2 separate regions of the Homo sapiens genome follow, and region 2 is linked to region 1. The links come from fine-mapping of genetic effects on gene expression. A gene starts in region 1. The other region holds a variant in brackets. All regions are shown on one strand. Distances are between the middles of the regions. Region 1 holds the start of SCFD1 (sec1 family domain containing 1). Region 2 overlaps SCFD1 (sec1 family domain containing 1).

Region 1 (5,383 bases):
TTCAGTCATTATAAGAAAATGATCAGAACAAAATCATTACATTATAAACATGTAATTCTTTTATATAGTGATTATCATGTACTGCATTGTTACTTTAAAATAAGCTATTAAACTAGTTTTTATGGTTCAAGTAATGCAATACAAAGTTTCATGCTTCAAGTAATGCAATACAAAACATAACCCATTTAATGATGAATTACTTGAATGTATATTATCTGTGGTTTAGGAAAATTTGGATTGTCTTGAAGAGACTCAGTTTTCAAGTTCTGATTTTGACCATTATCTCTTCTAATTCATAAACATATCCCAGTACCTACACTATGCCAGGTATTATGCTAGGTGATCGTTTATATGTCAGCCTATTTCCCCCCCTTTTAAAGACTGCCAGATTAACCAAAAAGCGTGACATTTATAACAATGTTTTATAAATAAATAAATGTGTTTATGCCACTAAAGGTAAACTGCCTATTTAAACTAAGTAATTTTTTGGGATTTAATAAGATTAAGATTCTGACGAAACTGAAAGATACAAGATTCCTTTACTCTCCACATTTGAGAGATCCTATAAGCAAGCAGTTAGTGTCTGACACCCAGGAACCTATAGAAATGAGGGAATCTGTGTTAAAACTATGTATCCTCTAATGTAAAATAGCTTACCAGAATAAATTATTTAAGCCAAAAATCTGGACTCAGATAAATGGCTATAGTAAATTAGGTTAATGAACAATCTGTAGCCATAGATTATTTTCAGTCTTTCTGATTCTAATAAAACAAATACCTTATTCAGTCTCAGCCTTACAAGGGCTATTTGTCTATGGTTGCTGTTCTTCTGTGAGGTGTATTTTTCTATAAATTTATTGCCCACATTCTGTGCACTTGGTCAGGAGTTTTTATCATTTCATATATATGCAGTGTACATCAATTTTAAAATTGTCTTCGTGGTTTTAACATGACTCATAGTCTTGGGAGAGAATCTGTGATGGAACTGAAGTGGCTCAATGATGGATTTGCATTTGAAAGTGGAAGTACCCAAATGAGCAAAATTGGGCTCTCAGACATTTTATATTTCATAGAGACTGTAGAATGCAGTAGAACTTTCCCATAGGGCAGAAATAATTTGTTTAGTTGGAACACACCTAGATCATTGAAGATTCCTTCAAAATATTAGTAATAGTACTGAAGACACACATGTATTCCAGTTAATTTCTTAATGAATGTGCCAATTAGCTATAAAAATGAGATTACATAATTTTTTTTTCTTTTTTGAGACAGAATCTCACTCAGTCACCCAGGCTGGAGTGCAGTGGCGCGATCTCTGCTCACTGCATCCTCCGCCTCCCAGGTTCAAGCAGTTCTTCCTGCCTCAGCCTCCCCAGTAGCTGGGATTAAAGGCGCCCACCACCACACCCGGCTAATTTTGTATTTTTAGTAGAGACCGGGTTTCACCATGTTGGCCAGGCTGGTCTCGAACTACTGACGTCAGGTGATCTGCCCACCTCTACCTCCCAAAGTGCTGGGATTACAGGCGTGAGCCACCGCACCCGGCAGAGATTATGTAATAAGATAACCTGTTTTAAATGTCACAAAAATAAATTTTTATTAATGAAAAAAGCCAGTGTTTCACACTATAAAACAATATATAATCGTTAGGCTAACCATTTCATTTATATAATTGTGAAAGTTAAGCTTTTGAGGTACAGAGTGATTTCATTTCAGAATTTGGTGCAACTTCATAATGAAGCGTCATCAATGAACTCGGGAAATGAGGTGTCATTGTGTATCCATTTTGGTCATACAGTAAAATCTATGGATTAAGTTAGAAATCATCTATCCCATATATTTTGCGGTCACGTGGCTTCAAGTGTACATTAAACCGCCAGCACAAGACCAGCCTGGCCAACATGGTGAATCCCCGTCTCTACAAAAAAAAAAAAAAAAAATTTAGCCGGGCGTGGTGACCCCTGCCTATAGTCCCAACTAGTGGGCAGTCTGAGGTGGAAGGATAGTTTGGGAGGATCGCTTGAGTCCGGGAGGTCGAGACTACAGTGAGCCGAGATTCTGCCACTGCACTCCAGCCTGAGCGACAGACAGTGAGATACTATCTCAAAAACAAAACAACAACAAAAACCAGCACATCAGCCTGGCCTGATGGTGTGCCCCTGTAGTCCCTAGCTACTTGGGAGACTGAAGCAGGAGGATCGTTTGACCGTCAGAATTTGAGGCTGCAGTGATCCCTGATTGCGCGCTCCAGCCTAGGCAACACACCCCACTACTGCTTGACTTCCTTCCCACGGCAAGGTGATTTTGCAATTACTACAAGGAAAGAGGAGAAATGCTAATTTCTCATTTTGTACCTCCCTGGATCCCGTGTCCATGCCGGCAGAACGCCACCATAAAGCTACACCTTTTTTTTTAAAGAGATGCGACTGAGAAATATGCCAGATCAGAGTAATGCTCCAATGCTTTCCGTTTCTCTGGAGAAAGGAGCAAAGGGAAGACTCCTGCTGCACTGAGAAACGAGAGCTAACGTTAAAATGTTGCCTGTGTTTCAGGAGCTTCATTTACTTCAGTCCTGTGGTCCTTATACTCCTAGAGCATTATCACCCTTTAAGTGCTCTGTAAGTCACCAAACCAACAGTTCAGTAATTAGGTTCTTAGCACTACACGCTCCTACCCTAACAGCTCAATTTAATGTTGCTACCATTTGAGAGAGTGTGGCTTGATTCGGTAGGATAAAAACTCTTAGTATTCGCCTAACATTACGGGCCACTGAATTAACCTGCACCGGGTCTCCCAGTTCTACCGAGAGTGGAGGTCTTCCTGGAGGAGGTGGGGTCCGGAACTCAGGCACACCCTTTGGCCCCGCCCTTCCGGGCTTTGCTTCCGGGGCGGTAAGGGCAGCCACGTCATCCCCCCGCTCCGCTCCCCAGCCGGGCAGTGGCTCGTGGGAGCCAAGATGGCGGCGGCGGCGGCAGCGACAGCAGCAGCAGCAGCCAGTATTCGGGAAAGGCAGACAGGTACTGACTTATTCTCTTCTCCTTGAAGCTTCGTGACTGCCCCGACGACATCCTTCTCCTCTGGTGCGTGCAGCTCAGAGACCGATCTCCAGGAGTTTAATCCAGTCCCTAGAACATCAAGAGCCCCTCCCCTTTGAGTTTTTGGGGAGAAGTTGCCATTAGCTTGAGGACTCGGTTCCTCCTGTGGTGCAGGAGAAGGAGCTTCAGCGGTGGGCGGATTGCTACGGCCCTGCTCTTGTCTCCTTCCTAGTGGGCATCAGAAGGCCATCACAACAAGATCTAGCAGCTGATAGCTTCTTATCTATGTTGCCACCTATGAGGTCTCCGAGTTTCTGTGCGTGGTTCAGTTCTCCTGGTTTTGATTTTTAAGAGAACTCCCATTTTCTGACACTCAGAGAATTTAGGTATTTTCACAGCGGCTTGCTTTGCGCCACTTCTCTACTTCGGACCAGTCTTTTGGGGGTACCTGCAGAAAAATGCCTGGTGATAAACATTTTCTCCTTCAGCTTGCTGGAAGGCATTGAAGAATGGCAAAACAAATGAATTAATAGCTTTCTCATTTTAATTGTTTGACACATTGTTTTAAAATAATATTTTATCTTCAATAGAGCATGTTTATATAGCTTCTATTTATGCAGAGAAATGTAAAAAGGCACATATTCTTCTCTTGAGTTTTGGGTTTTTTTCCGTCTTAGAAATTAGTTTTGCCTTACTTGAAAACTTCTCATGACAACTTGGTTTATACCTGTTAGCTACAAACTAAAGGTTTATACTTGTTAACTAGTTGTCTTAAAAGTTTTCAAGCAATTTATTCTGAGGAGCTAATAGAAATAAGGCATCAAGAATGTGCATACTTGGAATTCTGTTTCCTGAAATTATGCTCTGTTGGATATAAATATGAATAGGAAAATAAATTTATAATTCATATGACCTACAGAAGGGATTTGGGCTGTACTTGATTCCTTCCTTTGGCATTTAAAGAAAAAGTGATAGACTTCAATTTAGTAATGACACACAAAAGATACTGAGTTGCGTTCTGCTTTTCCCAGTAAATAATTTAGTATAACCTATCAGGTGAAGTCAGGCATAACTAAATATAGGGAAGTTCAAATAAGATTTGGGGCATACCTGCCATTCGTTGTATATGTTTAAACAAATGGAAGCTCCATTTGTTTTAATACTGTGTTTCTGATGACTATACTACATATTAAAATAACGTGTCAGTAAAACTGTACCAATACAAGAGAGCTTTTTGAAAAATAAATTTGCGTGGCCGTAAACTTGTATGCAGAAATTTTGTAGATCATTAAAATCTAATCGTTTGTATTTCTGCAGAAATAAACATAGTAAGATTTTACAGAATTACTAGGTAGTGCTAGATCTATTTTTTATCAAATTTTTACTGTCATTGAATTCTGCCTTATTTTCAGAGGAAGGTAAATCCTTGTATATATATTATAATGCAGAATTAGCTATTTCCCTCATGCCTATGGAGAATGTTTTGGGAGATAACTCACAGTCCTTAAATATTCTAGATACTAGAATATTTGGGTGGATGAGATAATAGTTGGCATTTATTGAGCATTTACTATTGTTAGGCATTGCATTAGGTGATTATGTATTATCTCCATTTTACAGGTGAGGAAAGTAAGATAGAGGTAAACTAACGTGCCTGTTTCTTGCTTTGCCTGCCTGAAAAATCTTTATTGGTCTCCTGAAAAATCTTTATTGATCTTTTGAAGGTCATCCCACAAGCCATCTCCTTTCTTCCTGGTTCACTGTCCCCTCTATCCATACCTTCAGTTCAATAGGTAGAATCAGTTGCCTCCTGCTCCGTGTTACTGTTGTTCTTCATTGAATGCGTCTTCGTTACAGGTTCTTGCACATCTTCCCAGCTTCTCAACATTGCAGGGTCCCATTAGTGTTCTCATCTAGCGCCTTAGCTTTCAGTATTATCTGTATGTTGATGATTCCCAGGTTTATATCCCTAGTCTGGCCGTCCCATCTGAACTCAGTCTACTCCATATCAGTTAATGGCAGTTCCGTCCTTTTAGTTGTTCAGGTCAAAAACCTTGAAGTTTTCTTGACTTGTCTCTTTCATGTCTCATGTAAGATCTTTCAGTAAATCTTGTCAGTTCTACTCTGAAAATACATCCAGGATCTGACTGTTGTCATTGCTATTCCGAGGTCCTGTCCACCATGAATTTCTGCAGTAACCTATTTGGTCTCTTTGCTTTTACAATCCTGTTCTCCTTCATTATTTTTCACACAGTACCCAAACTGATCATGCCATATGTTTGCTCAAAATCTTCCAGCATCTTCCCATTTCAACCATGATAAAAGCCAAAGTGATCTTACAGTGTTCT
Region 2 (5,383 bases), 110 kb after region 1:
GACTGAGGCACCATAAGTTTCCCATAAATTCATTCTTTTTGCTCGCTCTGCCAAGATACCAGGCCATTTTCCTTGCACTACCTTGGCTTTTAATTGAGGAGCGTACTTAATCCTTCTTGAGTCTGGGTACATGTGTCTTCCCATCTTTATGTAACTGTTGAGTTTGTTTTATCATTTTTCCAGGCTGCTTGCCACCATTTCCCTTCCTCCTGAAATAACATTTCTTGTCAACAACCAGTAGGTCATTAAGTCGTCTTGCTCAGTATGTCTCTTTTCATTAAAGGCAAATCGGGCTTACCATAGGACTCATAGAACTGTGCCAGTGTTTCTGCCCAAATTGGTTTAACCATTAAATAAGTTGTTGCCATTGAGTTTTTATTGCTTGAATATAGTTTGAATATACCTTTTGGATCCAAAATCTTTCAGGAACCTTTTGAGAGATGGCGGGCGAGGGAAGACAAAAGTTTTCAGTTCCCCGAGACAGTGTCTTATGAGTAGTAATTATTCTCAGCAAAAGATCAGGGCTATAAGTGTGTAAGCCCACCTAGTTATCCTTTACTTGGTTTCAGTACTAAGAATTTTTTTAACCTTAGTGCCTTCCGCCCACAGAAACAAGGTACATAGGCATTAGAGCACATGTTACTATGAGTAGTTGGAAATGCAGCAGTTATTTTATGTCTGTGTTTCTGGACACCTTTCTTAACAAATCATAACTGCGTTTAATAGTTACGTGGTGGTCTGTGACTTCGTTGTTCAACAAAATCGTTTGTGTGCATTTCAGAGACAACGTGTCCTAATTTTGCCTCCCAAAAGTGGTTCTCTACAATAGATAAAACCAATGGGAGCCAAAAGGCAAGCATTAGAATTATTCTGTGTTTATCCTCAAGATGTTGTTATTAGCATCATCAAGATTCAGACAAAATTCTACAGATTAAATTATTAAATCTCCTGCAACCCATCTTAGACAGCTTCAAATAAAGGAGACAATTTCATCAGGTCTTATGGGCATCTGTAAATATAGCTAAGAGCATTCTCTTGCTCCCAGGCTCTTACGAGATACCAAAATAATGTTACCTTTCTTTTTTGCATTATTCATTTATTGGCTCCCTTTCTGAGAGTAAAGACTTTTCCTCCTTTCTCCTGTTGTTAGTTTTTTACCCAGACCTTGATCCCTGAGTTAGGAGACCATCACATTCGGCAAGAGGACTTACCTGTGGAGCTGACAGCAATGTGAGACTGGCCAGTGCTTTTCCCCTTTGTCCATTCCCAGTCACATGATGTTGAGGTGGATAACTACAAGTTTATAGGACTGTCTTGTCCACATGTGAGGAAAGATGAAAAAAAAACATTAATTCCAAGCTTAGATAGGTGAAAATAAAAACAGTCCATTCCATCATTCCTCAGACAGTTATATTTAGAGGTATTATCTTCATGTCATGTTTGCAACTGATCCGTCTTCCTGAGCTTGTAAATGTAATCCATATCCATGTTCTACATGATCAGTCAGAGAAAAAGAAAAATGTTCAGAAATATGGAGGAAATTGTTATCAGTTCCTGTGTTATTACTCCACCCCTCCCTTATTTTTCCTGAAGTATCTCTATAATCTGTTTAGTGTTGAGTCCCCCTTTAATTTCATGCCTTTTATGTTTTGACACACATTCCATCATGCAACTCTGTCTCTCATTACCACTTTGAAAAGTGTTTCAAACATTTGCTCCAATACTTTGTGTTTGGTAAGGTATATAAGTTAGTCTGTGGTAGATAATGGTTGTTAGCACATTGTTGAACTGCACCTGCAGTAAAGTGAGTTTCTTTATCAAATGATATATAAGTAGGAGGTCTAAATTGAAATTGTTTCTGCTGCGGCCTCTAATAATGTTAAAGGTGATTCCTGCAGCTAACAGGTATACACATCCAAATGAGTGTGTATTCTAGACAAGACCTGTTGCTGTCCACGTGGAACCATAGATAATGGCCACCATAATTCTGTGTGAATGTATGTTTTCACTTCTTTTAGGTATATACCTAAGAGTGGAATTGTTGCGTCACTTAGTAACTGTAATCATTTGAAGAACTACAGACTGTTTTCCAAAGCAGCTGCACCATTTTACATTCCCCCCAGCAGTGCATGAGGGTTCTCACTTCTCCACTTCATTACTAACACTTGCTTTGTTATCTATATTTTCCTGATGACTTACGAAGTCAAGAATCTTTTCACATGTGTATTGGCCATTTGTATATCTTTGGAGAAATGTCTGTTTAGATCCTTTGTCCCTTTTTTTTTTTTTTTTTT[C/T]CCCCCGAGACGGAGTCTCGTTCTGTCACCCAGGCTGGAGTGCAGTGGCGCAATTTTGGCTCACTGCAGCCTCTGCCTCCAGGGTTCAAGCGATTCTCCTGCCTCAGCCTCCCAAGTAACTGGGATTACAGGTGCACACCACCATCATCCACCTTGGCCTCCCAGAGTGTTGGGATTACAGGCTTGAACCACCACGCCTGGCCCCTTTGTCCATTTGTCCATTTTTAATTGGGTTATTTTGCCTTTTTATGATTGAGTTGTAAGAATTCTTTATGTAATATTGATACAAATCCCGTATCAGATACATGATTTCCAGATTTTTTCCCCCATTCTCTGGGTTGTCTTTTCTCTTTTTGTGATGGTGTCTTTTAAAGTGCAAAAGTTTATTTCGGCGAAGTCCAGTGTATCTCTTTTTTTCTTTTGTTGCCTGGGCTTTTCGTGGCATATCTAAGAATCCTTTGCCAAATCTAAGGTCATAAAGATTTGACCCTGAGTTTTCCTCTAAGAATTGTATAATTTTAAAATATGGTATGAAGATCCAGTTTCATCTTTTTGCATATCCAGTTGTTCCACTGCCATCTGTTGAAAAGACTATTCTTTCCCCCATGTAATGGTTTTTTGGCAACCTTGTTGAAAATCACTTGATGTGTATGGGTTTATTTCTGAACTCTCAATTCCATTATTTGGATCTATAGGTCTTTTCTTGCACCAGTATTACACTGTGTTGATCATCATGGCTTCCTTAGTATGTTTTTGAAATCAGGACACATGTGAGTCCTACTTTATTGTTTAGGCTTTTCTGGGTCTTTTGCAATTTTTTATGAATTTTAGAATTTGCAAATGTCTACAAAGACTGTGTTAAATCTCTGGATCAGTTTGGGGAGTATTTTCATCTTAATGTTAATTAAGGCTTCTGGTCCATGAATAGGGGATGTTTTCCTTTTATATCTTTAATTTCTTTCAATAATATTTTGTAGTCTTCAGAGTATATTTTTATGCTGTTACGAAAGGCATTTTTTTTTTTTAAGTTCTAGGGTGCGTGTGCACAACGTGCAGGTTTGTTACATGTGTATAAATGTGCCATGTTGGTGTGCTGCGCCCATTAACTCATCGTTTACGTTAGGTATATCTCCTAATGCTTTCTCTCCCCGCTTCCCTTACCCCACTACAGGTCCCGGTGTGTGATGTTCCCCTTCCTGTGTCCAAGTGTTCTCATTGTTCATTTCCCACCTATGAGTGAGAACATGCAGTGTTTGGTTTTTTGTTCTTGCTATAGTTTGCTGGGAATGATGGTTTCCAGCTTCATCTATGTCCCTACAAATGACATGAACTCATCCTTTTTTATGGCTGCATAGTATTCCATGGTGTATATGTGCCACATTTTCTTAATCCAGTCTATCATTGATGGACATTTGGGTTGGTTCCAAGTCTTTGCTGTTGTGAATAGTGCCGCAATAAACATACCTGTGCATGTGTCTTTATAGCAGCATGATTTATAATCCTTTGGGTATATACCCAGTAATGGGATGGCTGGGTCAAATGGTATTTCTAGTTCTACATCCTTGAGGAATCGCCACACTGTCTTCCCCAATGGTTGAACTAGTTTACAGTCCCACCAACAGTGTAAAAGTGTTCCTATTTCTCCACATCCTCTCCAGCACCTGTTGTTCCCTGACTTTTTAATGATTGCCATTCTAACTGGTGTGAGATGTATCTCATTGTGGTTTTGATTTGCATTTCTCTGATGGCCAGTGATGATGAGCACTTTTTCATGTGTCTGTTGGCTGCATAAATGTCTTCTTTTTAGAAGTATCTGTTCATATCCTTCGCCCACTTTTTGATGGGGTTGCTTTTTTCTTGTAAAGTTGAGTTCTTTGTAGATTCTGGATATTAGCCCTTTGTCAGATGAGTAGATTGCAAAAATTTTCTCCCATTCTTTAGGTTGCCTGTTCACTCTGATGGTAGTTTCTTTTGCTGTGCAGAAGCTCCTTAGTTTAGTTAGATCCCATTTGTCAATTTTGGCTTTTGTTGCCATTGCTTTTGGTGTTTTAGACATGAAGTCCTTGCCCATGTCTATGTCCTGAATGGTATTGCCTAGGTTTTCTTCTAGGGTTTTTATGGTTTTAGGTCTAACATTTAAGTCTTTAATCCATCTTGAATTAATTTTTGTATAGGGTGTAAGGAAGGGATCCAGTTTCAGCTTTCTACATATGGCTAGCCAGTTTTCCCAGCACCATTTATTAAATAGGGAACCCATTCCCCATTTCTTGTTTTTGTCAGGTTTGTCAAAGATCAGATGGTTGTAGATGTGTGGTATTATATCTGAGGGCTCTGTTCTGTTCCACTGGTCTATATCTCTGTTTTGGTACCAGTACCATGCTGTTTTGGTTACTGTAGCCTTGTAGTATAGTTTGAAGTCAGGTAGTGTGATGCCTCCAGCTTTGTTCTTTTTGCTTAGGATTGACTTGGCAATGCAGGCTCTTTTTTGGTTCCATATGAACTTTAAAGTAGTTTTTTCCAATTCTGTGAAGAAAGTCATTGGTAGCTTGATGGGGATGGCATTGAATCTATAAATTACCTTGGGCAGTATGGCCATTTTCAGGATAATTGATTCTTCCTATCCATGGGCATGGAATGTTCTTCCATTTGTTTGTGTCCTCTTTTACTTCGTTGAGCAGTGGTTTGTAGTTCTCCTTGAAGAGGTCCTTCACATCCCTTGTAAGTTGGATTCCTAGGTATTTTATTCTCTTTGAAGCAATTGTGAATGGGAGTTCACTCATGATTTGGCTCTCTGTTTGTCTATTATTGATGTTTGGGAATGCTTGTGATTTTTGCACATTGATTTTTGTATCCTGAGACTTTGCTGAAGTTGCTTATCTGCTTAAGGAGATTTTGGGCTGAGATAATGGGGTTTTCTAGATATACAATCATGTCATCTGCAAACAGGGACAATTTGACTTCCTCTTTTCCTAATTGAATACCCTGTATTTCTTTCTCCTGCCTGATTGCCCTGGCCAGAACTTCCAACACTATGTTGAATAGGAGAGGTGAGAGAGGGCATCCCTGTCTTGTGCCAGTTTTCAAAGGGA

What was found. PIP is the estimated chance that this variant, and not a neighbour inherited with it, causes the effect.
Region 2: its variant is fine-mapped to the expression of SCFD1 in whole blood (INTERVAL, PIP above 0.99).

What each region holds. Positions count from the first base shown.
Region 1 is chr14:30,619,383-30,624,765 of GRCh38, forward strand. SCFD1 (sec1 family domain containing 1) reads left to right here and starts at 2,937. Exons shown (of 25, transcript NM_016106.4): 1 at 2,937-3,017. The coding sequence starts at 2,957. G2E3 (G2/M-phase specific E3 ubiquitin protein ligase) reads left to right here. Exons shown (of 15, transcript NM_017769.5): 15 at 1-682. RefSeq lists enhancers at 2,271-3,470, 2,540-3,219.
Region 2 is chr14:30,726,563-30,731,945 of GRCh38, forward strand. The region is part of intron 23 of SCFD1 (sec1 family domain containing 1); the gene reads left to right. Among named protein-coding and RNA genes, the nearest start is that of SCFD1, 110 kb to the left of the region's middle. The variant C/T (reference allele first, on the strand shown) is at 2,295.